Linked DNA regions of Homo sapiens. The protein of the gene in region 2 purifies or fractionates together with the protein of the main gene of each other region. This does not show direct contact. Each region holds a gene or a part of one and is shown on either strand. Other genes may lie near its edges.

Region 1 (4,833 bases), on a different chromosome or scaffold from region 2:
CACCCAACTAATTTTTCTATTTTTCGTAGAGACGGGGTTTCACCATGCTGGCCAGGCTGGTCTCGAACTCCTGACCTCAGGTGATCAGCCTGCCTTGGGCTTTCAAAGTGCTGGGATTACAGGCATGAGCCACCGCAGCTGGCCATTTTTTTTTTCTTTCTTTTTTTTTTTTTTTTTTTTGAGACAGAGTCTCACTCTGTTGCCCAGGCTGGAGTGCAGTGGTGTGATCTCAGTTCACCACAACCTCCGCCTCCCGGGTTCAAGTAATTCTCCTGCCTCAGCCTCCCAAGTAGCTGGAATTATAGGCGCACCACCACGCCCAGCTAATTTTGTATTTTTAGTAGAGACGGAGTTTCACCATGTTGGCCAGGCTGGTCTTGAACGCCTGACCTCAGGTGATCCACCCACCTCAGCCTCCCAAAGTGCTGGGATTACAGGCATGAGCCACTGCACCTGGCCCTATTTATTATTGAAGAATCAAAATTAGGCCTAGCCTGAAAAATGAGATTATTCTTGATTTTTGAACAGGGTCCTTGAACTGTCATTTAAAACCAAATCTGGTAATCTTTAGAGGCCACTGATGAAAAATAAGGGTAACTACAAAGTGATGACACTTTGTGTGGCTCAGAATCTGTCCTCTTAGGCAGATACAGAAGTGCAGTTCTTTTTGAGTTCTGGTAGCATTGTTTTAAAAGCTGTGCACAGCCTCCTGAGATTGCTATTTTCAAAGGTAGCATTTAGTTGGATATATGTTTGGGTAGGTTTTATTTTTAAAATGCTGTTGCTTTCTAATGACCCCTTATGTTCTAATATGGAAAGGGGAGGCAAAGTATTGTGAAAAGTAGTTGGTAAAGTAGGCCGGATGTGGTGGCTCACACCTGTAATCCCAGCACTTTGGAAGGCCGAGGCGGGCGGATCACGAGGTCAAGAGATCCAGACCATCCTGGCCACATGGTGAAACCCTGTCTCTACTAAAAATACAAAAATTAGCTGGGCATGGTGGTACATGCCTGTAGTCCCAGCTACCTGGGAGGCTGAGGCAGGAGAATTGCTTGAACCCGGGAGGCAGAGGTTGCAATGAACTGAGATTGCGCCACTGCACTCCAGCCTGGTGACAGAGTAAGACTCCATCTCAAAAAAAAAAAAAAAAAGGTAGTTGGTAAAGTTGTTCACATGAACCTTATTTATAATAGTAAAACACTGATTTATAATAATAAAAAATTTGCTATAGTAACAAAAAGAGTCTAGAGTAAGAAACTAGCTGAGCAACGTGGTGTCACACTATACACCCATTAAGACAACAGGCACATGTGTCATGTCCATTTTGTGGAAAAGATATGTAAAATAATTTTAAGTAAAAAAGATAAATATAAAAAAGTGAATGCATACAAAACAATTTCACAAAATTGAATGTTACTCAAAAATCACAGCTCATTTTAAGCTGCACAAAATAGTCATTTTTTTCTTTATAATTGCTCAAATTCATAATCAAACAGAAGAAAGTTCCTGTCTTGGAAGTAGTGCTATGCCCCAATTCTTCCAGAGCCAGTACTTTAAACAATTCCATTTCATTATTTTCCTGTAGACTAATTCTTAGGACATCAGCATATCTCTCTTCAAGCATTAAAAAAATCTCTTTAGAGTCAGTGGATCAATAGACAGTTCCTGTTTTCCACACAACTGAAAGGGTGGAGCCCCCAAACCACAAGGGGAAGAAGGAAGTTAAAAGATGTTAAATACTGGGGCCAGCTCACCCTGGTCAGCCTAGCACTCTGACCTAGCAGTCAACATGAAGGCTCTCATTGTTCTGGGGCTTGTCCTCCTTTCTGTTACGGTCCAGGGCAAGGTCTTTGAAAGGTGTGAGTTGGCCAGAACTCTGAAAAGATTGGGAATGGATGGCTACAGGGGAATCAGCCTAGCAAACTGTAAGTCTACTCTCCATAATTCCAGAGAATTAGCTACGTATGGAACAGACACTAGGAGAGAAGGAAGAAGAAGAAGGGGCTTTGAGTGAATAGATGTTTTATTTCTTTGTGGGTTTGTATACTTACAATGGCTAAAAACATCAGTTTGGTTCTTTATAACCAGAGATACCCGATAAAGGAATACGGGCATGGCAGGGGAAAATTCCATTCTAAGTAAAACAGGACCTGTTGTACTGTTCTAGTGCTAGGAAGTTTGCTGGGTGCCTGAGATTCAATGGCACATGTAAGCTGACTGAAAGATACATTTGAGGACCTGGCAGAGCTCTCTCAAGTCCTTGGTATGTGACTCCAGTTATTTCCCATTTTGAACTTGGGCTCTGAGAGCCTAGAGTGATGCAGTATTTTTCTTGTCTTCAAGTCCCCTGCCGTGATGTGGGATTTTTATTTTTATTTTTATTTTATTTTATTTTATTTTTAAAGACAGTCTCACTGTGTGGCCCAGGCTGGAGTGCAGTGGCATGATCTCAGCTCACTGCAACCTCTGCCTTCTGGGCTCAAGTGATTCTCGTGCTTCAGCCTTCTGAGTAGCTGTGACTACAGGTGTGTACCACCACACCCAGCTAATTTTTTGTATTTTCAGTACAGATGGGGTTTCACCATGTTGGCCAAGCTGGTCTTGAACTCCTGGCCTCAAATGATCTGCCCACCTCAGCCTCCCAAAGTGGTAGGATTACAGGTGTGAACCACTGCACCCAGCCGACATGGGATTTTTAACAGTGATGTTTTTAAAGAATATATTGAATTCCCTACACAAGAGCAGTAGGAACCTAGTTCCCTTCAGTCACTCTTTGTATAGGATCCCAGAAACTCAGCATGAAATGTTTTATTATTTTTATCTACTCTACTTGATTAACTATCTTTCATTTTCTCCCACACAATTCAAGATGTGCCATGAGGAAAAGTTATTTTATAGTTTAGTACATAGTTGTCGATGTAATAATCTCTGTAGTTTTCAGATTGAATTCAGACATTTCCCCTCAATAGCTATTTTTGAATGAATGAGTGAAGGGATGAAATCACGGAATAGTCTTGTTTTCAAGATTCTAACTTGATATCCAAATTCACCTTTAGATATTATAAGAAAATTTCTATCAGAAAATCCTTATGTTTTTCTGATTAAAAAAAGCATTTTTCCATCAGCCTATGTATCTGCTATGAATTTACAAAATCTACTCAACAGCTCTGTTGATTTTTCTGTTCTTGGCTGAATGTTGCCTGAGGGATGGGAGCACGGGAAGGGTAAAAGCAATGGAACAAACATGTATTTTAATATTTTAAAAGTATGTTATATTGTTCGTTGGTGTTACAAGATGATTTGCATTACAAAAGGATTCTCTTACAAGTCCCTTATCTTAACACTAAAGTGCTAAGATATTTTATAAGTAAATCTTTATACTTATAAAACAAATCAGTAAAATAGAAGTAGCTAAGTAGAACTGATTTTGCTATAGAGTATAAGTCACTTAGTGTTGCTGTTTATTACTAAAAATAAGTTCTTTTCAGGGATGTGTTTGGCCAAATGGGAGAGTGGTTACAACACACGAGCTACAAACTACAATGCTGGAGACAGAAGCACTGATTATGGGATATTTCAGATCAATAGCCGCTACTGGTGTAATGATGGCAAAACCCCAGGAGCAGTTAATGCCTGTCATTTATCCTGCAGTGGTAAGACAAGCTAATATTTGACCAATCTGGTTATACTTACAAGAATTGAGACTCAATACAAATGAAAAAGCCTTGAAAGGTTCATGAGGGACCTAGAAAAACTACATCTCAACTTCCAGAAAGTCATTATTATTTTCCTCATAATTCCCTGAGTAAGAAATTAAAGAAGTGGTATCATAAAAGGTTGATGTTTTTTAATATACAGAAGTTTCTGGAATGACCTATTAATTTACTGTCAATGGCCTTACTGATGCTTTGTCCAGAACAATGCCATTGCTCCTGCTTACTTTGGGGAGGTTTTGGGATAATTTAGTTGTATGGTCCTTTTTCAATTGTTTTACTTTTTTTTTTATGAAATGTTCTAAATGTATAGAAAATTAGAGACATTAGTATAATAAACAGCCATATGCCCATTATGCACTTTAAAAGTTGTTAACATTTTGCCATAGTTGCTTCTTCTATGCCTTTTTTTTTTTTTTTTTTTTTTTTTTTTTTTTGCTGAGAGTTTTTTGTTTGGTTTTGTTTTGTTTTATTTTGAGACAGGGTCTCCCTGTCCCCAGGCTGTAGTGCAGTGGCACCATCACAGCTCACTGCAGCCTCAAGTGATCATCCCACCACAGCCTCCCAAGTAGCTGGGACTACAGGTGTGCACCACCATGCCTGGCAAATTTTTGAAATTTTTAGTACAGGCAAATTCTGTGTTGCCCAGGCTGGTCTTGAACTCCTGAGTTCAAGCAATCTTCCCACCTCAGCCTCCTTAAGTGCTGGAATTACAGGCGTTAGCCACTGTACCTGGCTACTGCTGAGAGACTTTTAAGTGAATTAGGAACATGATGATATTCCATTTCTAAATTCTTTAGTTTACATCTTCAAAAAATACAGTTCCTGTAGAATTATTATTGTAAATAACAAATTAACTTAAGGATTTATTTATTTGGAGTGAAACAAATATTTTACTGAACTCATAAAAATAGAAATACCATGTGGAATCCTCAGTGTCAAAAATATTGCAGAAATCTTGCAAAGTTGATATTATTAAATTGTTAAATATTAAAATTCCCAATAAAGAACATTAATCTTATTTCTAAAATCCAGTTAATTAAAAAAATTTATATTATATAATAATATTTGGTCATTAAATAAAAATTAGAAAATACAAATAAGAAAAATAACACCCATA
Region 2 (3,389 bases):
ACCTGGGATCAGGGGTCAGGGCCGACCTGCCGTGGGAACAGCGGTCGGGGCGAGGGGTGGGAGGGTCCTGGCCGCGTGGGGCACTCACTCCTTGAGCTCCTGCACGTTCCGGATGCTGGGGCTGCGCAGGCTCACGTGCTCCTGCATCTGGCTGTGGCTGTACTGCACCACACCCGCGTACGACTGCCCTGGCTCGAACTGTGGGACCGGCACCGGGGTCAGGACGCGAGTGCTGCCCCAGGTCCGCATAAGCTTCCCAAGGGTGACTCTATTGGCTGCGGGTGCCCAGAGGGTGGCATGGCCCCCAGGACCTCAGGACCTGGGTCCCCTGCGATTGGCTCTGGGTGCACAGAGGGTGGCACAGCCCCCGGGACCTGGGTACCCTGCGATTGGCTCCGGGTGCCCAGAGGGTGGCACAGCCCCCGGGACCTGGGTACCCTGCAAAGCAATCTTCCTTGGTGGATGAAGCCCTCCTGGGTTCTGTCCACGAGGGACAAGCCCACACCCAGCACTCAGGACCCCAGACTACCGCCCTTCAAGGAGAGGGGGAGACCCTCCCTCATCTGGGGCGCCTGTGTACAATGGGCCAGCCTCGCCAGGTGGAGCTGGAGGCCTGGACGGGCTGGCGCGTGCCTGGCATCCTTGTCATGAGTAGGGAAGTCACAGGGATGCAGCGGTGGCCTCGGGAGGCTGAGGTCTGGCGCGGGCAGGGGCGGCCGGCAGGGTCGGGGTGCACCTGGGCTTGAGAAAGCCGGGCGGGGCGAGGCCTCACCTTGACCAGCTCGTCCCGGCTCAGCCGGTCGATGACCTTGACGACGAAGTCCTTGGCAATCTCGAAGTTCTGCAGGCCAATGCTCTCTGAGCTGTCCAGCACGAACAGGAGGTCGATGGGGCCGCACTTGCATTCTGCAGGCGGGGGCGGTGTCAGCAGAGCACGCCCCTCCCCTCCAGTGCCCTGGCCCCTCCCCTCCACCGCCCTGGCCCCTCCTTGGCTGCCACATCCTCACCTGACACGTTGGGGTCCCCCCGTCTCAGCCCCAGAAAAGCCCACCCCCTCCCATGGCCCCGTAAAGGCTGCTCTGTCCGGCGGCTGGTCAGGGCTGGCGTTGCTCAGCCAGGCTAGGGTGGGGCCTGTGGGCCAGAATGATGGAGCAGGGACCCCCCCAAGCCTGCTCCTGGTTATTTCAGTTATGGGTGAAAGAGGGCGGGGCCCAGCCCAACACCCGGGAACCCTGCTGGCTTGGAGCAGGCCCCAGAGGGGGCGGGCAGGTGCAGGGAGCTGCGGGCGGGGACCAGAGTGCCATGTGCTGTCCTGTGACATGTGTGGGACCCAGGCCTCGCTCCCCGACCCCCGGGATCCATTCTCTCAGGAGCTAGAGCCTGGGTCTCACCACAGCAAGCTGAGGAGAAGAGAAAGAGTCAGTTAGACCAGTCAGGGCCGCGTCCTGCGCACGTCAGAAAGGCTTTTACTCTTGGGGCAGCCTCCCCGCCTCCCCGGCCGCCCTCCTTCCCCGGCCTCCCCCCTTCCCCGGCCTCCTGCCCCGCCTCCCCGCCTCCCCGGCCGCCCTCCCCACGTGGCAGCTCTGCACCGCACCGGGGACTCTCAGCCTGTGCGGGGACCCGGGGGCCTGGGAGGGCTTTGGAGGCCGGTAGGGGCTGGCTGAGGAGCCTCCTCAAGGATGTACCCAGAGACCCAGGCCCCCAACAGTGGAGACACCCTTCTAGGAGTGGAACAGGCCAGGCTGGCGGCCCTGCTCTCCCTAACGAGGACGGCTTCTCAGAGATACTCACAGCACATTTTCATGATGATGTCCAAAATCTCGCATTCCTGGGGAGGGAGAGACGAGGGTACTGGGGCCATAGACAGCCCCTCCCAGCGGGGACTGTGGGCTGCTGGATCTCCAGGTCACCCTCCCTGGGGCCCCCACAGGGCGGGGTTTGGGCAGGAGGTTCTTTGCAGGTGTGCCCGGCTCTGCCCACTACACCCCTGCTACTGGGCTGGACCCCTGACGTGGTCATAGAAACAGCGCAGTCATGGGTCTCCCCGTGGCCGTCACGGGTCCCCTCATGGTCCTCATGGGTACAGGTCCCCCCATGATCCTCACACGTCCCCCCCCATGATCCTCACACGGGTCCCCCATGATCCTCACGGGTCCCCCATGATCCTCACATGTCCCCCTCCATGATCCTCACGTCCTCCCATGATCCTCACACGTCCCCCCCATGATCCTCACATGTCCCCCATGATCCTCACATGTCCCCTCTATGGTCCTCACACATCCCCCTATGATCCTCACGGGTCCTCCCATGGCCGTCACGGGTCCCTAGGGCCTGGCACCAGCTCTTTGTCCACAACCCACCCCCCCGTGAGCAGCGTCTACAGGAGCACCCATGGACAGGACCCACACCCCAAGGGATGGAAGCTACAGTGGTCGCCCCCAGCAATGTTCACAGAGCCCCACTTACGTCCGGCCCAGGCGGTCCTTGGTGTCCTGGGGGTCCCTGTCCGAGAAACGGAGTAGAGGAGCTCTGAGGGTGAGGAGCCCACTGTGCTTCCTGAGCTGAGACAGCCCCCACCCCCAGGGCCCTGCCCCTCATCAAGCCCACCCCTGCCCGGTCCCTCCCTACCCAGCCCCTCGTCCTCCAGTGACGGTGCTGTGAGGGCAGCTGGGGCTTCGCACACTGGTGGTCCAGGCGGCCATCCCAGGTGGGCCCCACCCTGAGGACCCGCTGTGTCCCTGGGCTCGGCTCTGCTGCCCTGGCCACCACCTGGCCCTGGTGACCGGCACCTCCCACCCCCAGGGCCTCCCAGATGACGTGCTCCCCAAAATTCCCTCCCGCCGCCTCCCACTCTCCCAGCCTCTTCCAGCATTCCCCAGCCCCAGCATCCGGCGTCCCAGGCACAGCCCACCGTGGCCTCACCCAGCCACATCCACCCACCTGGGGGCCCTCGGGACCCCGGTACCCCTTTGCTCCTTTGACTCCTCGGGGTGCAATGTCGTTGTTCTAGAAGGGAACAGCGTTGTGTCAACAGACCGTGCACCACCCGGGCATCTGCGCGCTGGCCCCGTCCACAGAGCATCCAGCAGCCGGGGCCCATGAGGCCTCCCCAAGCGGGTCCTGGTCCACTGCCCTTCAAGGGCCCAGCCCTCTGGCTCAGGTGGACTTGGGGCTGGCCCTGCCTCCCATCCACACTTACATCGTCTCCGGGGTCCCCGGCTTCTCCCTCGTCCCCCTTGAGGCCGGGGTAGCCCTTCGTGCCCTGCAGTGACGGGAGAGCACTTGGTTAACAAGGGTTTTATTTTGTTTTTAGGAAGTGGAAATTTTAAAAGGAAAAAAATAAAGATAAGAGAGGCACTCTTCTCTTCCCTTCCCCCACCACACACATT
Region 3 (4,091 bases), on a different chromosome or scaffold from region 2:
TAATCCCAGCACTTTGGGAGGCTGAGGTGGGTGGATCGCTTGAGGTCAGGAGTTTGAGACCAGCCTGGCCAACATGGTGAAACCCTGTCTCTACCAAAAAATACAAAAATTAGCTGGGTGTGGTGGTGCAGGCTTGTAGTCCCAGCTACTTAGGGGGCTGAGGCATGAGAATTGCATGAACCCTGGAGGCGGAGGTTGCAGTGAGCCCAGATCATGCCACTGCACTCCAGTCTGGGCGACAGAGCAAGACTCCGTCTCAAAAAAGAAAAAAAAATTATACAGCCTCCTAAATGAAAGAATATACGTGTTTCAATCTTTTCTTTCTTCATGACAAGGAGAGAATCATTATCTTCAGTATTAATTGAGCTAGATTTTCTCAAAACCTCTTACTATGCATAGAAAGGTTTTGCTTGTGACTGTTTTCTTTGTCCCAATACAGGAAGAAATTCGATACATGACCTATAAGACCTCTGAATTATTCTACCAAGTCTCCACTCTGCCCTACTTTTTTTTTTCGAACGGTGTATTTATCTGTATACCTGGCTTTAAAATTCACAGCATCACGCCCCATATTCTGCTTTCTCCGGTTTCAGCTACTCTTCCTACAGGCCAAAGAATGTCTGTACTCTGATTTCTGCTTAGCAATGTTTACTTCATTTACAAAATCAAGACAGTTCTAGTAACAAGGGAAGATTATTCTAAGGTTAGCATTTTTTTTTTTTTTTTTTTGAGAAGGAGTCTTGCTCTGTCGCCCAGCATGGAGTGCAGTGGCATGATCTCGGCTCACTGCAACCTCCACCTCCCGGGTTCATGCCATTCTCCTGCCTCAGCCTCCCGAGTAGCTGGGACTACAGGCACCCACCACCATGCCCGGCTAATTTTTTTTTTTTGTATTTTAGTAGAGACGGATTTCACCATGTTAGCCAGGATGGTCTCCATCTCCTGACCTCGTGATCTGCCCGCCTCAGCCTCCCAAAGTGCTGGGATTACAGGCGTGAGCCACTGCGCCCGGCCAGCATTTTTTTCAACTCTAACCATCAACTCAACATAAAAACATATATATATACTTACTGTTTCACTACCAGGTTTCCAGCCAGCAGGGCAGACTAAAAGAAACAAAAAGAGGCAGAAGACATTTTAAAAACAGAATTCAGTTACCTTCAGCAACTGACTTTTTCTGTTTCTATATGAAACTGAATAGAATATACTAATAAGAACATTTCCAGACCACCGAGCACATGACTTCTATTAGCTGCCTGTTGACACCAAGGAATTTTAGTCATGGAGCTCATAAGCAGGCAGCTAATCTATTTTCATTTTTACCAATTATGTTTAGTTACATTTAAAATATAAGAAATCAAATTGATTGCCCCTCTAATACAGTTGGAAAGTTTGGGAATCTGGTGAGCTGAAAGGCCTGGGCATGGCAAAAATTCCTCCAAATTTACATAAACTTCCAGTACGCTTGTTTGCCATGTATACTTCAGTACTTTGTACTGATGACATGATTCACTGTTTGTCAAAAGAGACATTAGAATGCATCCTGACTCAGTGACATTTTTAAAAGGAATATATAATGTGTTCTATTTTAGCAAAATGATGAACTTGTAGATTACAAATGTGATACTGAATAAGCCCAGAGATTACATTACTATACTTCATCTTAGCTGAAAGGCAGAGAAGTGATCAAGGATTATTTAAAAGGCTAAATTCAATAATGCAAAGAGGCAAATGAAAACTACATCACTAAATGTTGCCAGATTGACACATTCTAAGCTTGCAGAAACATAATTTTAAAAATTGCAGTAGCAGAAACTTTTGTCTTTGAGTTTATCAAAAAGGACTATGCAAATAGTGAATATTTTTGCATCTCATTTAGTAAGCAGAATATATTAGTTTATATATATATATATATATATATATTTTTTTTTTTTTTTTTTTTTTTTTTTTTGATTTTTAGTAGAGGTGAGGTTTCACTGGGTTGCCCAGGCTGGTCTTGAATTCCTGAGCTCAAGCAATCCTCCTACCTTGGCCTCCCAAAATGCTGGGATTTCAGGCATGAGCCACCATGCCTGGCCTGATATTTTGTTAAAGCACTGTAAATTATAATTTGGTCTGTTAAAAGGATCTGCTAATAATTTGTAAATAATCAGAAAACTTTGGAAATATCGATTACTTTTACGATAAGAAACCTAACTAATTATGCTATCTTTCAAACTAAAAAATCAAAAGGTTAGAAGGGAGAGGTACCTTCTCCGTGTTTGTCAGTGTACTGGAATGCTTGAACCAAACGTAGTGTCTCATCCACTGATCTACCCACAGGAAGATCATTCAGAGTAATTTGTCTTAGGATTCCTTTGTCATCAATAATGAAGAGACCTCTGTAAAACAGAAGAATGGTAGAGATGAGGTCATTTCTTCTCATTTATGTATTGTGAATTCCTATACCATCCACACAAAAGGATGCTATACAGAACAAACACCACACTACCTACCTACTCCAATGGTATACACACACACACACACACACACGTACACACACCTGTGGACATCCCTCCCTCAATCTAATGTATAATTTGGAATTATCACTGTAAAACTGCAGCTTTAAAAATTTGTTTTTGGCTAAGAAATGTACCAGAGTATTTACAGTTGTTGAAGATAATCTGACCTTTAAAAACTATGTGCATATGTACATGTATTATTTTGAAAATAAATAATAAATTTTTTATTTGTTTTCAAACAGGATCTCACTCTGTTGCCCAGGCTGAAGTGCAGTGGCATGATCTCGGCTCACTGCAGCCTCAACCTCTTGGGCTCAAGTGATCCTCTCGCCACAGCCTACTGAGTAGCTGGGACTACAGGTGTGTGCCACCACGCCCAGCTAATTTTTGTATTTTTTGTACAAACAGGGTTTCGCCATGTTGCCCAGGCTAGTCTCAAACTGCTGGACTTGAGCAATCTACCTGCCTCGGCCTCCCAAAGTGCTGGGATTACAGGCGTGAGCCACCATGCCCGGCCTTAACAAAAAAATTTTAAAAAGAAACTACTGGCTCAGGTCAAATAATATAGCTAACGTTAGATAATTTTACTTGGTTAATGTTCAAATGATTCCACATTTTAAAACTGCCTCAGTCGTTTTTGGGGCATATTTATTCTTGGAAATTAACTTAGTAACAGATTTTATGAAAGCAGAAAACATTAAATACTTAGCAAGTACAAAAGAGGGGAAACTACTGGTAGCAATACATGATACAATACAATGAACCTTGAGAACATTATGCTGCGTGAAAGAGGCTAGTCATAAAAGCACATATTGTAGGATTCCATTTATATGAAATGTCCAGAATAGGCAACTATAGAGACATAAAGTAGATTTGTGGTTGCCTAAAGCCAGGGGAAGTGGGTTAGGGGAAACATGGAGTGACTGCTAATGGGTATGGGGTTTTTTGGAGCATGAAAACATTCTAAAATTGTGGTGATGGTTGCACAACTCTGTGAATACACAAAAACCACTGAAATGTATTCTTTATTTATTTATTTTTTTTTGAGACGGAGTCTCGCTGTCGCCCAGGCTGAAGTGCAGTGGCGCGATCTCGGCTCACTGCAGACTCCGCCCCCCAGGGTTCACGCCATTCTCCTGCCTCAGCTTCCCGAGTAGCTGGGACTACAGGCACCCGCCACCACGCCCGGCTAATTTTTTCTATTTTTTTTAGTAGAGATGGGGTTTCACCGTGTTAGCCAGGATGGTCTCGATCTCCTGACCTCGTGATCCGCCTGCCTTGGCCTCCCAAAGTGCTGGGATTACAGGCGTGAGCCACTGCGCCCGGCTATGTATTCTTTATTTTTAATTTTAATTATTTTTTTAGAGACAGGGTCTCACTCTTGTTACCCAGGCGAGAGTGCAGTGGTGTGATCATAGATCATTGCAACCTTGAACTTCCAGGCTCTAGCGATCCTCTTATCTCAGCCTCTTGAGTAGGCTGGGACTACAGGAATGTGCCACCACAATGGCCTAATTTAACAAAAAAAAATTATTTTTTTTTTTTTGTAGAAGACAAGGGTCTTGTTATGTTGCCCAGACTAGTCTCAAA
Region 4 (4,853 bases), on a different chromosome or scaffold from region 2:
AGCTTCTACACTTTTAACCTCTCAATATTTTATCTGTTGGGCTCCACTGTTTCTTCCTGGAATTCACATCACTGCCACCACTCTGTTCTCCTTGTCCTCATATCAATGTGGCCAAATATTTTCCCTGTATTTCAATCAGGACAAGACATGGTTTTTCCCCCCATCAAAGGAATGGAGAACCATAGAATACTAGTTTTAAAATGTCTTTAGGCCAGGTGCCGTGACCCATGTCTGTAATCCTAGCACTTTGAGAGGTTGAGGCAGGAGAATCACTTGAGCCCAGAGCTCGAAACCAGCCTGGGCAACATAGTGAAACCTCTGTCTCTATTTTTTAAATAAAATTTGAAAAAGTCTTTAGACATAATCTAGTCTAAAAATGAAGGCTTAAATGTGATGTATAGCCCCCTGCCAAGTGGCTATCAACTGTGTGGGCATCTTCAGTCATAGGGATCTTATTGCCACAGAGAAATCCCTTTAAACTTATTGGGTAAAATCTCTCCAATGTTTATTAAGAAACACACAAAAAATAAAGCAAAGAAGAAAATGCAAAAGAGTTATAAATGAGAGGAAGCAAAATGGGCACTTATTAAAGGTCTAATAAATGCACATTTGTATCCATCATTCTACTGAGTTCTTACTCCCAAGATGTTCTTCCCTTTAGCAAACAAATAAGCAAGTCAGCAAAGAAAGAAAGAACAAACAAAATGTGGTGATCAGGGAAGCATTGAGGAGATGGATGGTGGCAGGTGGCAAGAGGACTATAAAAGTTTTACAAAATGTCTTCCTCTGAATATGTTTAGAGTCTTGCATTCAAGCATTTATTATACACCAATAATGTGAGCAACACTTTACTTGACAAAGAAACAGAAAAGAAAGGAAAGGAAGAAAACAGAAGAGCATGAAGAGAAAATTTAGGATGGATTCTGTTCTTCAACTTCAAAGCATCTGCTAATTTGAATTTAGGGAGGAGGGGAAAAGGTTGAAAGAGAATAAGACATGTGTAGAAGACAAGGACAGAGAGAATTTCAGTCCGGTAAGCAATGTAATTCATTTCAATTCTACAACTATTTATGGAGCAGCTACGTGGGCCCATCACCCATTAATAAATTGGTTACAGAATTAAAACCAACCCAAAGGGAATATACTTCCTTCTTTTTCACAGACCCTCTTTGTTCTATTCTGCCCATGAGGTTTTCCTCCTCAAGAACCAGCAAATCCAACGACAGTCAATAGCAGGCATTACAAATCAGATTCAGAAAAATAAATCACCCCTTCTAAATTTCTTCTAGATATTATCTTTTATGTTTTGAGTATAATTGTATATAGTATAGACTATAGCTATGTATGTACACTTTCCACTTACATCTTTTATTTGCTTTTATAATGTGTTTCTTAAAATAAAACTGCTTTTAGAAGTTCTGCACAATTCTGATTTTTACCAAGTCAACCTACTTCTTCTCTCAAAAGGACAAACATAAATTGTCTAGTGAATTCCAGTCAATTTTTCCAGAAGAAAAAAAATGCTCCAGTTTTCTCCTCTACCAAGACAGGAAGCACTTCCTGGAGATTAATCACTGTGTTGCCTTGCAAAATTGGGAAGGTTGAGAGAAATTAGTAAAGTAGGTTGTATCATCCTACTTTGAATTTGGAATGTTTGGAAATGGTCCTGCTGCCATTTGGATGAAAGCAAGGATGAGTCAAGCTGCGGGTGATCCAAACAAACACTGTCACTCTTTAAAAGCTGCGCTCCCGAGGTTGGACCTACAAGGAGGCAGGCAAGACAGCAAGGCATAGAGACAACATAGAGCTAAGTAAAGCCAGTGGAAATGAAGAGTCTTCCAATCCTACTGTTGCTGTGCGTGGCAGTTTGCTCAGCCTATCCATTGGATGGAGCTGCAAGGGGTGAGGACACCAGCATGAACCTTGTTCAGGTAATTAACACTAACTGACCTGGCCAGGTGGGGAGCTTCCAGAGTAAGCTGAAACCATTCTGTGTGTCTTAAAACCCACATAGAATGCTTGAGCTTACTGTGTAGGAACAGTTCAAGAATAGAGAGTTATAGAGTGTTGGAAGTGGAAAAGGTCTCATTATCACACCATTTGGGCTTCTCCTCTTATGTAGGAAGAAACAAAGGCCAGAAATATTAGGTGTTTTCTTAAGATCACACAACACCATAGCAGTAGCAGCACTGGGGCTTAAGGCACATGAGTAACAAGTGGAGAGTGGATGAACCATATCTTGCTTTGGAACAGCTTCAGTTTTTTTTTTAATGCAACGTAATTTTAGCTAAATATTTGTGTTGCTAGTATCATATTATAAAATTTGCCATTATTTCAGCAAGCTAGAGAAATACTCCAAATAGATTAAGAAGTGAGCAACTGCAAAAACTTACTATAAATAGATAGCTATAGTAAAAATTGTAAGAGTGACCTAAAAACTATACTTATTCTGTTAGAAATATCTAGAAAACTACTACGACCTCAAAAAAGATGTGAAACAGTTTGTTAGGAGAAAGGACAGTGGTCCTGTTGTTAAAAAAATCCGAGAAATGCAGAAGTTCCTTGGATTGGAGGTGACGGGGAAGCTGGACTCCGACACTCTGGAGGTGATGCGCAAGCCCAGGTGTGGAGTTCCTGATGTTGGTCACTTCAGAACCTTTCCTGGCATCCCGAAGTGGAGGAAAACCCACCTTACATACAGGTAATGGTTCAGAGGGGTTTTCACATAAGATTGGAATTTTATAAACTATATCATAGGAGAAAATAGCATCTGCTTCAATTTTTCTCCTACAGGATTGTGAATTATACACCAGATTTGCCAAAAGATGCTGTTGATTCTGCTGTTGAGAAAGCTCTGAAAGTCTGGGAAGAGGTGACTCCACTCACATTCTCCAGGCTGTATGAAGGAGAGGCTGATATAATGATCTCTTTTGCAGTTAGAGGTAAAAAAAAAAAAAAAAAAAAAAAAGCAAAACAAAACAAAACAAAAAACACATGAAATGTATCCATTCATCTATCTGGTGTTGTTGTACTGGAAAAGGCTCAAAAGGGATCCTTGTTACATATCTTTCCAATAAATTTTTTTCCTACTAGAACATGGAGACTTTTACCCTTTTGATGGACCTGGAAATGTTTTGGCCCATGCCTATGCCCCTGGGCCAGGGATTAATGGAGATGCCCACTTTGATGATGATGAACAATGGACAAAGGATACAACAGGTTAGTTACACATCTCTCAGAATGATTTTGGCATTAATTTTTTTATATGTAGAAATCTGTTAATAACCAAGAATGCTCAAGAAATGAGATGTTCTGGATTTTCCAGTGGATCAGAGATCAGCAGAATATATTTTTGTTTTAATTATTATTGAAAATATTTTCAGATGCTTTAACAGTTTTCCTATATTGGTAAGCACAATATAGGAAATATCATTAAGTATTTCTTTAATGACTGGATCTTTGTGATCTAGGGGTAACCATTATTAAGAAAAATTTCTCATATCAAAATACAAACATTCAAGGGATAGTATATTGCACTGAATCTACATTAAAATGTGCTCTGGATGTTACTTATGTAATTTCCTCCATTTACTTCTTTACTCTTCAAACCAGAAATAAGAATTAAATTTCAGAAACTGAGATTCTCTTTTTTTTTTTTTTCTGGCTGAGGCATTATTTTAGTACTTTTAGGTTAAAAGAATTTTTATGGGCTTGTTCTGAAGGAAAAGACTAACTCCCAAATACAACGTTCAAACTGTTTAGGTAGAAGAATGTTTCTCAGTTCATAACTGTATGTTTTGGGGAATGACATCCAAAGTTTTCAAAAAAATCAGCTAAAACAATTAACACTACTTCTAAAAAAATAGGAAAACAATTAATACTATGTCTGAGGTTTAACTGGGATTTATAATGAAAATGTAAACCTCTGTAGGACGTACAAATGTGAGTTTAGTCCTGGATAGAATTCTTGATTGGTTGAGTTAACGAATTCTTGTAAAGAAACCTTCCTGCAAACTCTCAAATGAGATTGTTCCTAGCATCACAAGTTACACAAGTAATACTAGCAAAAGTAAGGTAGATTTACTTACTATATTGATCATAATTACCCAATGCCTCCCAATTTTAGCATTATGGGTGTTTTTAAAAATATGAAGGAAAAAATTTTGAATAAAGCCAGTGTTTATGTATTCTAAATCTGTTGTGTGACAAATGCTAGACATGATTGGGCATACTGTGTTTTAAACCAATTTTGCAAATCCTATGACATCTATCATTATTCATGTTTTTAGTCTCAATATGTACTTCATGATGATGAGGCTGAGACATTATCAATTAACATGAATATAGTTTCCTTTAACTGAGACTGCAAATGGCAAATGTAAATATATTAAAACAGTGTTTAGCTTTGCATTGACAAATGAAGGTAAATATCTGATATGCTAAGCAAGTGGGTTCATTCCATTCCTGAGTACAAGAAAAGGGATCTGGTTCTTCTGGAGTTAATATGCTTGTGAGGCTGGGGGTGGGTTTGGGGCCATGGGGGGCAAGTGGATGTAACTGGGAAATCAATCTCAAAGATTGATTACAGGTATGAGTTTTAAAATACACTTAGCTTTCCATTAAGTGTGTAATTAGTCAATTGTTCAATTAACCAACAAACAAGGTGTAAAAAGCCCTGTGTGGTTCCAAGAAGTAAAAACCAATACAATGCACAGCAGACCTGTGTAATGCACATGTATTTAAAAAATAAGTAACTATTGTTCTCAATTTCTTAAATAGGGACCAATTTATTTCTCGTTGCTGCTCATGAAATTGGCCACTCCCTGGGTCTCTTTCACTCAGCCAACACTGAA
Region 5 (4,091 bases), on a different chromosome or scaffold from region 2:
ACATTGGCCTTTAGTTACAAAATAGAAGAATGACTGTTGTTTCCTCACTCTTTCCCAAAAGGCCAATTAAGACTAAAAACTGTTGTTTTGACAAGGTAACAAGTTTCCCTTCTGGGACTCCTGTAGTTGCAGGGTCTTGATCCTCAGTAGCGAGAAAAGGAACATGATACGTGGATTCCAGATCCCAGAAGTGAATCATCCACATTTCGGGCTGAAGCCATTTCTCATCTATCCGGCTGATTCCTCTGACTTTTGCTACTTTATACTTTTTTGGGTATTTTTTCAAAACCTGCTTTTCTTGAAATGCTGACCAGTCCTGGTTAACTGTTTGCTGCCCCAGGGTACAAAGTTTCTCTAAAGTTAAAGCTGACCCATACCCCGGATTGATAAAGGGTGAGATAGATAAGAAACTCTACTTTAGGGATTTGAGAATCACTGGATAAGAGGAGATTCTAGGACAGAGATGATTCTGGTTTGATTAATTTAGGGAGAAGCTTAGACATTAGTCATTTGAAAAGGGCTCCAGGTGATTCCAATGGGTTGACAGGATTGAGAATAATGGAAATTTCTGACTCCTAAACTGATACATTCAGATCCACTGAATAGATCAGTTTTAACCTATAAGTAAAGAAATGCCCCTGCCTGTTTATATCATGGCAGACTCCCAGAGACGGGTCAACATCTTAATATTTGTCTTTTCCAAGTACTGAACAATGCCACAAATTTCACTTCTAAAGTATAATTCCCCATTCTTACTGCTTTGATTCATAGTAAATGAAAATTGTCCTAAAGGTACCAGTATTTTACTGCTGAATATGACTAAGCTTGTCAGATCATTATGTGAGAAATGTTGTGGTAATGGAAAGAAAGCAATAGAGACCTTCTCATGTTGGAGAGTATAAGAAGAAGAAATGGAGGTAGAGAAACAGTCTATCCTTTGTAAACTTTCCTTAGGTCCCAAAGAATTCTAAGGCTTTTTAAGGACTGTAGTTCTTCCTTTGTGAGATTTTGTAAGTATCCTTTTCAGTCTTGCAAAGGAAACTCTAGGCAAGTGGTTGAAAACCCACAGTCCCTTTGGCATGCCTAAAGGACACAGGAGCCAAGTGAGAGAGCTCCCAATGGCCAAATGTTGAACAGTTTGAGCAACAAAAGACATAAATTGGTATTACGTTATAACCCAAAGTGCAAAATAATTACCTATAATTAGCTATGAGTCCTCCCTAATATAAATACATGTTAGAATAAGTAAATAAATGAGAATGGACAAATTTTCCATACAGAAGAATTCAAAATTTTTGTGTAGATACTCCCCATTCTTTAAGTGTGAGCTACGCATAGTGACATTTTTCCAAAACGTACAATACAGAAAGACTGTGGGGAGACTTTATAGTGCAGATACCTGGCAGACACCACCTCAGCCAGACAAGAAAAGTTAATACCAGCCGTCATAATTTATATTGATATTATATATCCTTGATATAATGCTTTCAGGATGACACTTTACCTCTGTGGTCTTCTCCCAAAACTCTATAACTCCAGTCTTAACAGGAGAAAAACTTAGACAAACCCAAGTTGAAGGACAATGTACAAAATACATGACGAGCACTTTGGGAGGCTGAGGAGGGGGGATCACTTGAGGTTAGGAGTTTGAGGCCAGCCTGGCCAACATAGTGAAACCCTGTCTCTACTAAAAACACAAAAATTAGCCAGGTGTGATTGTGCGCACCTATAATCCCAGCTACTCAGGAGGCTGAGGCAAGAGAATCGCTTGAACCCAGGAAGCAGAGGTTGCAGTGGGCCGAGATAACACCACTGCACTCCAGCCTGGCTAACCGAGCAAGACTCCATCTCAAAAAAACAAAATAAAACAAAACAAAAACATGACTTATACTACTCAAAATAGTTCGGAGAAACTGTCACAGCCCATAGGAGGCTAAGGATACCTGACTACTAATGTGGTATACTGGTGAGCTCCCAGAACAGATAAAAGACACCAGTTTAAAAATGTCTTTAGAAATGTCATTTTAAAAGTCTAAAGAAATCTAAATATTGCATGGATTTTAATAAAAACTTGCCAACATGTGTTCTTTAGTTATGACAAATATACCATAATAAGATCTGACAAAGAAGCCAAACTTCAGTCAGATTTCTAAAACTTCTCCTAAGCCCACCTCTTCATTTCCTTGTAAAATCCAGTTTTAGCAATTCCTACTAAATTAGCTTAACAAGAACCCCTATAGTCAATATCCAAATGCCCGATCTGATTAGGTCTCTCCTCCTCTACCAACCCGAAGGTCATGTCTGATCACCCTATCCTGTCTTCTGCAAAAATCCTGGTAGGTCAGTTTAGCCAGAATTCCTTTCACTCCTGATGTTTTCTCCTAGTAATTTTTAATCCACTGACCCCCACCCCACTCCTTGGCTATAAATTCTCACTTGCCCATGCTGTATTTGGATTTCAGCACAGTCTCTCTCTCCTGCATTGCATGTGGTCCCTGTACCTACTGCAATGTTCCTAAATAAATTCATCCTTGCTGTGCTTTAATAAGTATCATTGAATAATGTTTTCTGTAACAGATGTTAACCATAGAGAAAACTGAGTGTGCAATATATAGGAATTCTGTTTTATCTTCACAAATTTTGTGAAAATCAAAAACTATTTTAAAATTAAAAGTTTATCAAAAAAGTAAAGAAGGGAAGGAAGGCAGGAAGGAAGGGAGAAAGAGATTCCCACATGAGCAGCAGCTGTCAGAATCTTGTCAAAATTTAAAATTCTCAAGTCGCAGCCCAGACCTTCTGAGTCAAAAACTCAGGGAATGTAGCAGTAACCTGTGATTGAGAAACATGATATAGTTGGTTGGAAAGAGCTCTGCTTCCAGGTGCTTCTCATTTTAAATGTGATCATGTTACTTTTTCTTTAATGCCCAAGAGTGAAGAATCGGATTAGGCTTTACTGTATCTTCTGATTACCGAATTGTTACCTTTCACAGAGGAATGGCATGCCTGCCTCTGTTCTTCTCATATTATTAACATTTGAACTCCGGGGCCCTTCTCAGACCCTGTTGTACTCATGTCTTCCATAACTTCTCCGGTACACAGAGAGCTCTTCCACCTCTGATATCCCCAAGTGCATAATCATGTACCAAATCTCATGTTTCCAGAGGCTATAAATCAAAGCAGAGTGTAGATTCCCTGGAGACAGAAGATTTCACCTACCAGATAGTGACCTTGGGTAAATTGTTTATTCCCTCTGTACCTGAGTTTTCTTTCTGAGAACTGGGGATGATACAAGAGTATCTACTTCATGGATTTTGGGGAGAATTGTGAATTAATACACATAATTTGTTAATAACAGCATCCAGCACTTAGTGAGGAACCAATAATGTAAGCTGGCGTTACTGCTGGTGGCAAGTGTTTTGTCTCTTAAATATTTCTTCCTTCTCCCAAAGTAGTGGAGTTTTGTGTGCAAAACAATGAATGTCTCAATAAAGATTTGGTGAGTTGAATGGGTAAAGTGAGCCCACAAAACCCTATTTCAAACCCAGTGACTTCTCTCTCCCCTGCCCTCACATACCAGTCATCTAAGGCATTTTGATGTTGAAGTAGAATGTTGAAAATATTTCATGTTGCTTATAAAATGCTTTTAGAATAAAGTTAGAGAATTGGATAATATGTGAAAATCTGGAGTAAATTAACCTTACTCTAAGCTTCACCACCTACAGTTGAGCTGTTACCAACGAACAACACCATTTTACTTTTGATCAAAGATTATTCTAGCTCCAGAGAGCCTTAGCAGAATTTCTGTTAGCCTCAAAGACGAGATTAGACATAAAAGAAATAAGCACCCTGGGGACCATTCTAGAGGCCACTGGGTAAGTGAATATATTTGAATAACCAGTTCAGATTTTGCTTATTTGCAGTTTACCATAGGTTAAATAGAAATGCAACAATTTACATGCCATAAACACACAAGCTTTAGGTGGTTTGGTTTGTTTTCCAGATGGGAATTAATGTGGTGGACTCCGCAGTATCCGGATTAGGTGGCTGCCCTTATGCAAAAGGTGCTTCTGGGAATGTAGCCACTGAGGATT
Region 6 (4,091 bases), on a different chromosome or scaffold from region 2:
GGAGGACCATGCTCTCTGCTAGCCAAGGCAGAGTCTGCATTTGGCACCTCCTGATTTCCACACGGGGAGGTGGTGGAGGTGCCTTATTCATAGGTCTCTGTCAGTGTGGAGGCACTCAGGCCTTCACACCTGCTTTGGGGGGATGGGAGACTCTTTCCTGAGGCTTTGCTTGTCCAGTAAGTGCCTGTGTCCTCTGGAGGAGAGAGGACAGCCATGGCACGTGGCATCCCCAGTGCATCTGGTGTGAGCTTCCACATCGCTAACCTCCCCTGTGACTGGGGTTGCCTCTCTAAGCCACTAAAATCATCAAAGCATGGTTTCTGATGGAGATCTCCATGAAATGTATTCTATGGGCTCATGTATTCAGCAGGCTCTTCCTGAGCCTGTTAGGAGGCAGCCCTGTGCTGGATGCTGGGCCCAAAAACAGTTGGCAAGTCACAGGCCCAGTCTCAAAAATCCCCTTCATCACTTCAGGAGACTGACACACACAGGAAGGTGCCAGAAATTCCTCAAGGAGTGTAGGAACAAGGCCACATACCTCAGGGAAGGCTTCCTGAATGTTGGTTGCATGTTGATAGCTCATTATTTACTGAACAAACACATACATCTTCTCCATTTGTTCCTCCCAACAACTCTATGAGGTTGGAATTCCTTTCCCCTTCCACAGATGAGGACATAGGCACAGAGAGGTTAAGGAGCTTGCCCACGGTTAAGAGCAGTAAGAGGTTAAGGAGCATTCCCCATGGGGAATGTGTGCGCTGGCTCCAAAGCCATTCTCCTAACCGCTTTGCCACACTGCCTCCCTCCTTGAAGCCCCACTGTGTCCCACAGTCCGTGGAGTGGACAGACATGCAAAGAGATAATGAAGTCCTAGCCAAGCTGACTGGCTGGAGCGCCCCTGGCGACGGAGCAGTGACTGCTGTAGAGAACTCACCCTGTAAGCTACAAGATTCAATGGAGTGAGTGTCGTGTCTGAGATATGGACAGAGTGCATTGGGAGCATCCATAAGGGCCAGGGATGGGACAGTCAGAGCCCTGGGAGCATGGAGGACAAGAGGAGACCTTTGAGTAGGCCTTGAGTCATGAATAGCAGTTTGCCAGATGAGGAAGTAGGTGAGAAGCAAATATCCGATGGACAGGACACTGTGCAAAGGCTTGCTCTTTCAAAAAATGAACGGTGGACATAAGAAACCTTCAGGACCCAGGGCCATGAGTCACGAGTGTCAGTGACATGGGGGTGGCAAACTCTGGGCAAGATGGGGGCCCTCCGCCCTGCACTGAATGGCCCGGGCGGCTGAAGCCTGCGATACTGGGCTGGTTTCCTATGGCCTTCCTGCCACCTGCCCCTAAACACACTGAGGCCAAGCTGCGGATCATCCTCTTGCCAGCAGCAATCACTATGTCTTCTTGTCACTTCCTAGCTCTGGACTACCCTGGTCTGGGCACCACATTTACGTCGTGTGTAAGTAAGAGTACATAGGCCACGAGGAAGCATCTGCTGTGTGATTGGGACGCACGGATGCCGAGGTCTTCGGCCTGGCTCCCTGAGGGAACTTTTGCTCCCTCTGTAGTTCTGGATTGGGCTTTGGTGAACGGAGGGCTCTCGTTGCCTTCCAGATGTCTGTTCTGCCCCTCACTGCGTCTCTGGAACCAAGATGGTGCCTGGTACAATCTCTGCTCAGTAAATTCTTGGTGAATGAAATGTTGCTGACTAATCTGGAAAGAACACCAGTCCAGGCATCATGAGGCTTGGGTGTGAGCCCTGGTTTGGCTACTTCTTGGCACGTGGCCTTCTTTAAGTCTCAGTTCCTCATCTATAAAATAGGAGTCAAGCCGTGTACGGTGGCTCATGCCTATAATCCCAGAACTTTGGCGGGCCAAGGCGGGAGGATTGCTTGAGCCCAGGAGTTCAAGACAAGCCTGGGAAGCATAGAGAGACCCTGTCTCTGCAAAAAATAAAAATGAAAATTAGCCGGGTGTGGTAGAGCACGTCTGTGGTTCCAGCTACTCTGGAGGCTGAGGTGGGGAGGATCGTTAGAGCCCAGGAGGTCAAGGCTACAGTGAGCTAGGATTGTGCCACTGCACTCTAGCCTGGATGACAGAGAGAGTCCCTGTCTCAAAAAATAAACAAATAAAATAAAATAGTGACAATGACCCTACCTTGCAGAGATGAAAGAAGGCACGTGTGCACACAGCCCCTCCCTGGTCCACGTGCAGCTGCCGGCTGACCCACAGGTGGTTCCCAGTGAACCATGGGAGGGACAGCACACACGGCGGCCTGAGGCCTGGCCATCTGGCCTGCTCACTGGCAGAGGGGAGCATGTAAGACATGGCACCCTGGTCTGTACCTGGGACAGTAACTGACCAGGACCCCAAGACATTCTGCCAAGTGGCCCTTGGCCAGTCAGGTGAGACCTAGCCTCACAGCAGTAGAGGGGCCAGGAGGACATGCTGTGGTATGACCAAAAGCCACAATCATGTCACAGGAGTGAGTGGGCCCTGGCCTGGGGCTTGAGAACACCCCGGGAGGCAGCCTGCCATCCCCCATCCCCAATCCTCCCCCAAACGTCCCAGAGGCCTCTTGCTGGAACCCAGCCTGGTCCTCCCTGTGAGGGGAGGGAGTGTGTGGCTGTCAGTACCTCCCCACTGCAGAAGGAGCATCCCCCGAAGCTCTGGGGGCCCAGAGCTGACTCAGACCCAGGCTTGGCCTGGTGGACTCACAGGTGGGGGAGGGTGTCAGTCACAGATAGAAAGAATGACCACGCCACAGGCCGGCGGCTCTAACAGGGAGGCCCGCAGACAGCCTGGAGCTGTAGGGGTAGGGTGCAGGGAGGGTGCTGTGGTGTGGGGACACTTAACTGGCGTTGGGGATGGGTAGTTGGGAGCTGGCCAGTAGAGCTGAGCAGACGTGGCTCAAACCCCAGCCCACTGGCATGTGACATGATACTTTGGGCTCCCTTCTGCTGTCTCTGCTTCCACCTCTGTGCAGTGGTAATAAGAACAGGCCTCCCTCCCATGGTTGCCTTGAGGAGGAAATGCAGATTCATGGGCACACTGCCCTGGTGCCTGGTCCACAATTTGCCCCAAACCCCAGGAGCTGCTGTGATTGGTTAGCATGGCTTCCCCCACGGCCATGGCCATGATTTAAGAATAAAGAGAATTCTGCCTGCCAGAGAAGAGCAGGGAAAGGGCATGCCTGCAAAGGGAACAGCCTGTGCTGAGGCTCAGAGGTGTGAAATGGCAGGGAGTATGTATTAGTCTCTTCTCTCATCGCTATAAAGAAATACCTGGCTGGGTGCAGTTGCTCACGCCTGTAATCTCAGCACTATGGGAGGCTGAAGCGGGAAGATGGCTTGAGCTCAGGAGTTCGAGAGCATCCTGGGCAACATGGCAAAACCCCATCTCTACAAAAAATACAAAAATTAGCTAGGCGTGGTGGCTCTCGCCTGTAGTCCCAGCTACTCAGGAGGCTGAGGCAGGAGCATCTCTTGAGCCCAGGAGGCAGACATTGCAGTGAGCTGAGATGGTGCCACTGTATTCCAGCCTTGGTGACAGAGAGAAAGAGAGACCCTGTCTCAAAAAAACTAACGGACAAACACAAAACAAAACAAAACAAAACTGGGTAATTTATAAAGAAAAGAGGTTTAATGGGCTCACAGTTCTGCAGGATGTATAGGAAGGATAGTGGCCTCTGTTTCTGGGGCGTTCTCAGGAAACTTACAATCATGGTGGAAAGTAAAGGGGAGGCGGCATGTCTCATGACGACAGCAGCAGCAAGAGAGAGATGGTGTGGGGGCACACTTTAAAACAACCAAATCTAATGAGAACTCACTCGCTCTACAGTACCAAGGGGAGATGGTACTAAACTAAACCATGCGTGAGAACTCCGCCCCGTGATCCAGTCACCTCCCACCAGGCTCCTCCTCCAACACTGGGGGTTACAATTCTACACGAGATTTGGGTAGGGACACAGATCCAAGCCATATCAGAGTATCAGGAGATGGAAGGTAGACAGGAGGCTGGAGAGGTGGGGAGAGGCAGGAGCTGATGATGGAGCTGTCCATGGGCAGAGCCAAGTTAGAGAGCACTTC
Region 7 (4,091 bases), on a different chromosome or scaffold from region 2:
AGTGAAACTGTCTCAACAACAAAAAATTAACAAAATGATGAAGCTCCCTTCTCTTCATTTTGTGTGTGTATGTGTGTATGTGTGCACATACATGTATGTGTGCATACGTCTGTGTCTCAGAATATCCTTAATATATTTTCAATTTTCTTTGTTCATGATTATTCTCTTCTTCCTTTCCCTTTAATAGTTTTCCCGTTTTGTTGTGTTTCCTTGCCTCTAGATGTATCCTAATCATCATGCCATTTTTCTTCTTCAGTGTTGTCTTCATCTATATAATTTTAGATCGTGAGCTGAAATAGCTCCTTCTTTAAAAAAAAAAAAAAAAAAAGAGAGTCTCACTCTGTCTCCCAGGCTGGAGTGCAGTGGCATGATAATGGATAATGGCTCACTGCAGCCTTAAACTCCAGGCTGAAGCTACCCTCCACCTCAGCCTCCCAAGCAGCTAGGACAACAGGCGTGTGCCACTATGCCTGGCTAATTTTTATTTTATTTTATTATTTTTTATCTTGAAACGTAGTCTCACTCTGTCACCCAGACTGGAGTGGAATGGCACGATCTTGGCTCAATGCAACCTCCAGCTCCTGGGTTCAAGCGATTCTCCTGCCTCAGCCTCCTGAGTAGCTGGGACTACAGGTGCGCACCACCATGCCTGGCTAATTTTTGTATTTTTAGTAGAGACGGGGTTTCACCATGTTTTGGCCAGGCTGGTCTTGAACTCCTGACCTCAAGTAATCTGCCCATCTCTGCCTCCCAAATTGCTGGTATTACAGGCATGAGCCACCATGCCTGGCCTAATTTTTATTTTTTGTAGGGACAGAGTCTTGCTATGTTGCCTAGACTGGCCTTGAACTCATGACCTCAAGCAGTCCTCCTGCCTCGGCTTCCCAAAGCACTATTGCAGGTGTGAATTACCACGCCTGACCAGAAAAAGCTCTTTTACTATAGGAGAGCAGGCTGAGTGCTCTCTATATATACCATATATGTGTCTGTGTGTATAATAGAGAGCACCTTTTATATGGTATACATATGTGATACATACATACACACACACACACACACACACACACACACATATATATATATACATATGAGAGCATTCGCTCTTGAGGACAAGTTCATATGTAGTCTTCTCTGCTCAAGACAAGATAATGCTTTCATATTAGTTAATGTTAAGCTCCAAAGGAAGAATTATTTCTTAACTAGAAGGTAGAATATATTTTTGTAACTTGTTAAGACTGTATATTGATTCAGGACAGGCGCTGTGGCTTATGCCTGTAATCCCAACACTTTGGGAGGCAGAGATGGGAGGATTGCTTGAGTCCAGAAGTTCAAGACCATCCTAGGCAACATAGCAAATCCCCATCTCTTAAAAAAAAAAAAAAAGTATATATTGATTCTAAATCTACAGACTTGGCTCTTGGCCCTAATTCTCCTTTTTATCTTTTACCCAATTTGATAACAGTTTTTCATGGTGATGTGTATTGTATATGTCCTGTTTGGTGTTCTGTGGCTGGCATGGTCTGCCTGCTACTGGAGAGATCTCCTGAGAATTCAGTTTTGGATTGGTGCTGTCATCTTCCTGGGAATGCTTGAGAAAGCTGTCTTCTATGCGGAATTTCAGAATATCCGATACAAAGGAGAATCTGGTAAGTAACCAGAAAATCTTTGCCAGTTCGAGTGGTTGGAAGGTGAGATGTATGAAAATATTCCTAAGGTCAGCAGTCACTACATAGGCTTAACTTTTCAATTACTTAATTATTACAATATCTTAAGCAGAATCACTATGACTCTGACTTTTGTTTTTAATCTTATGAGTTCAGTGATGTAAGACTAATTTTACTGAAATATGCTCACAAAAGTCACAACAGTAGTGACCATTTTGGGAATGATTATTAACATCAAATCTCAATTTCTGTTGATTTCTAAGGCACCATTATACATCTAAGAAAAAAAGTAAAGCTGTCAATTTAATTGTAAAATGTCACTGATTGTAAGACACACCTTGATTTAAAAAACCTCAAAATGTGGTGGGAAAGTGCATCTAACTGATAAAATATAGTCATATCAAGAAAATAGGAGAGTGCTTATGGTTTAGTAAGGTGAACTGGTAATGACAGAAGTTGTTTTATACTGTAGTTTTTTGTGATTGCTTCAGTTTTTTCTTGTCAGACCATTTAATTTAGTCATAATTATTATTGTGAGATAAACTGATAAGATTTTCCCTGGTCTTTGAAAGGTCTTGAAAATAGTAGATCTGAAAAAAGTTAAGCTGTACATGCCAACAAGCGTGTACACGAGTGTGTTTTGTGCTTTTCTATGTGTAGCTGTATTTCACAGTTTTTAAAAATGGGGGAAATTGTCTCGATGCTACAAACTGTCCATATAGGGTGAGGTATTCTGTTAAAGTTTTAGTGAATTTGGGGCCAGGTCGGGGAGGGAGCTGAGTTGAGCGCACCCAGATTGCCATACATAGACATGAGTAAGATTGTGAGTGGCATCAGCTTGTATCCTGTAAAAACTGTGGAAGAGGTATTCTATTTTAGCAGGACTAATATCAATGCTTATTCTGAAGAGTGTAGAAAGCAGCAGTCTAGTATTGGCATCTGGCCTGTTGCCAAACCTAGATTATGGTGCCATTTCTTCCCTTCTTTTTCATAGTCCAGGGTGCTTTGATCCTTGCAGAGCTGCTTTCAGCAGTGAAACGCTCACTGGCTCGAACCCTGGTCATCATAGTCAGTCTGGGATATGGCATCGTCAAGTAAGTATTAACTTCCTGTATGGAAGAGCAAATTAAAATGCTGATTAAATTAAAACAGTATTGCATGTTCCCAATGTAGTAGTTCTGAAATAGTTGATAAAAGAAATAATTCTGAAACAAGAAAGGTATTTGAAATTTTGTAGCATTGTAAATGTTGGGAAAATGTGTTTCATTTTCCATACTTCCAAATATATTCCATACTTCCAAATATATTCCATACTTCCAAGTCCAAATGTATTCCATACTTCCAAATCCAAATGTATTCCATACTTCCGAATATATTTCCATACTTCCAAAATATTTTTTGCAAATTAGATTTTTTATGGGAAACGCATTCTTGCTGTAACTGTCTGAAAATATTTTTCTATCCAAAAAATTTTATTTTTATTGAGGAGTGTCTTCTATAGGCATTCTTTGAGGCATTGTTCTAGGCCCTGGGGATATGGCAAGTAAACAGAAGATTTTGAGCTTACATTTGTGGAGGGAGGGGACAAAGACAAAATTTAAGTGGGTAAAATATTTTAATATGTCAGTGGAAAGTGCAGTGGAGCAGGTAATGCAGGAGCTAGAGCTTGCAGTTGTACATAGGGTGATCAAGGAGGGCTTCACTTAATGACATTTAAGCAGAGACTTCAAGGAGGTGAGGGAGCTATATGTATACCCAAGGGAAGAGATGCTGAATTGAGATCAGATTCTATATATATTTTGAAGGTGGAACCAGTGGAATTTGCTGATGGATCAGATGTATGATAGGAAAGAGAAGAGGAATTAAGGATGATGCCAATTGTTTTGATCTGATAAAATGGCAGGATGGAATTGAAGATTTACTGAGTTCAGGAAGACCTTAGGTGAAATAAGTGTGGAGCAGGGGCAAGATTGGAGTTGAATTAGATAACTAAGTAGGGGAAACAAAGGGGAGAGGTTGGGGCAGAGATAAAAGTTTGGGAGTCATGAAGATAAAGATATTATTTAAAGTCATGAAGGCCAGGCGTGGTGGCTTACGCCATAATCCTCACACTTTGGGAGGCCAAGGCGGGCAGATTGCCTGAGGTCAGGAGTTCAAGACCAGCCTGGACAACACAGTGAAACCCTGTGTCTGCTAAAATACAAAAAATTAGCCGGCTGTGGTGGCATGCACCTGTAGTCCCAGCTACTTGGAAGGCTGAGGCAAGAGAATCGCTTGAACCCTGGAGGCGGAGATTGCAGTGAGCCAAGATCATGCCACTGCACTCTAGCCTGGGTAACAGAACGAGACTCCATCTCCAAAGTTAAATAAATAAATAAATAAAGTCATGAGACTGGATTTGGTCACCAAGGAAGTGAGTATATATAG

The links.
Region 1: the proteins of COL6A1 (region 2) and LYZ purify together in Homo sapiens (co-immunoprecipitation; one large-scale study listed by IntAct). This does not show direct contact.
Region 3: the proteins of COL6A1 (region 2) and PRDX4 fractionate together in Homo sapiens (co-fractionation; one large-scale study listed by BioGRID). This does not show direct contact.
Region 4: the proteins of COL6A1 (region 2) and MMP3 purify together in Homo sapiens (co-immunoprecipitation; one large-scale study listed by IntAct). This does not show direct contact.
Region 5: the proteins of COL6A1 (region 2) and HMGCLL1 fractionate together in Homo sapiens (co-fractionation; one large-scale study listed by BioGRID). This does not show direct contact.
Region 6: the proteins of COL6A1 (region 2) and HHIPL1 purify together in Homo sapiens (co-immunoprecipitation; one large-scale study listed by IntAct). This does not show direct contact.
Region 7: the proteins of COL6A1 (region 2) and TMEM87A purify together in Homo sapiens (co-immunoprecipitation; one large-scale study listed by IntAct). This does not show direct contact.

Annotation. Positions count from the first base shown.
Region 1 is NC_000012.12:69,346,620-69,351,452, forward strand, and holds the start of LYZ (lysozyme C precursor), read left to right. Parts: upstream 1-1,761; 5' UTR 1,762-1,789; coding exon 1,790-1,925; intron 1,926-3,488; coding exon 3,489-3,653; intron 3,654-4,833. UniProt on the Homo sapiens protein: Lysozymes have primarily a bacteriolytic function; those in tissues and body fluids are associated with the monocyte-macrophage system and enhance the activity of immunoagents.
Region 2 is NC_000021.9:45,998,770-46,002,158, reverse strand, and holds part of COL6A1 (collagen alpha-1(VI) chain precursor), read right to left. Parts: intron 3,263-3,389; coding exon 3,200-3,262; intron 3,007-3,199; coding exon 2,941-3,006; intron 2,503-2,940; coding exon 2,467-2,502; intron 1,829-2,466; coding exon 1,792-1,828; intron 1,401-1,791; coding exon 1,392-1,400; intron 907-1,391; coding exon 773-906; intron 199-772; coding exon 89-198; intron 1-88. UniProt on the Homo sapiens protein: Collagen VI acts as a cell-binding protein.
Region 3 is NC_000023.11:23,680,686-23,684,776, reverse strand, and holds part of PRDX4 (peroxiredoxin-4 precursor), read right to left. Parts: intron 2,382-4,091; coding exon 2,251-2,381; intron 1,107-2,250; coding exon 1,072-1,106; intron 1-1,071. UniProt on the Homo sapiens protein: Thiol-specific peroxidase that catalyzes the reduction of hydrogen peroxide and organic hydroperoxides to water and alcohols, respectively.
Region 4 is NC_000011.10:102,840,520-102,845,372, reverse strand, and holds the start of MMP3 (stromelysin-1 preproprotein), read left to right. Parts: upstream 1-1,763; 5' UTR 1,764-1,826; coding exon 1,827-1,931; intron 1,932-2,456; coding exon 2,457-2,701; intron 2,702-2,793; coding exon 2,794-2,942; intron 2,943-3,093; coding exon 3,094-3,219; intron 3,220-4,779; coding exon 4,780-4,853. UniProt on the Homo sapiens protein: Metalloproteinase with a rather broad substrate specificity that can degrade fibronectin, laminin, gelatins of type I, III, IV, and V; collagens III, IV, X, and IX, and cartilage proteoglycans.
Region 5 is NC_000006.12:55,439,469-55,443,559, reverse strand, and holds part of HMGCLL1 (3-hydroxymethyl-3-methylglutaryl-CoA lyase, cytoplasmic), read left to right. Parts: intron 1-4,000; coding exon 4,001-4,091. UniProt on the Homo sapiens protein: Non-mitochondrial 3-hydroxy-3-methylglutaryl-CoA lyase that catalyzes a cation-dependent cleavage of (S)-3-hydroxy-3-methylglutaryl-CoA into acetyl-CoA and acetoacetate, a key step in ketogenesis, the products of which support energy production in nonhepatic animal tissues.
Region 6 is NC_000014.9:99,647,678-99,651,768, forward strand, and holds part of HHIPL1 (HHIP-like protein 1 isoform a precursor), read left to right. Parts: intron 1-4,091.
Region 7 is NC_000015.10:42,234,987-42,239,077, reverse strand, and holds part of TMEM87A (transmembrane protein 87A isoform 1 precursor), read left to right. Parts: intron 1-1,462; coding exon 1,463-1,646; intron 1,647-2,658; coding exon 2,659-2,758; intron 2,759-4,091. UniProt on the Homo sapiens protein: Potential monoatomic ion channel gated by mechanical force, implicated in normal touch sensitivity through the generation of mechanically activated currents.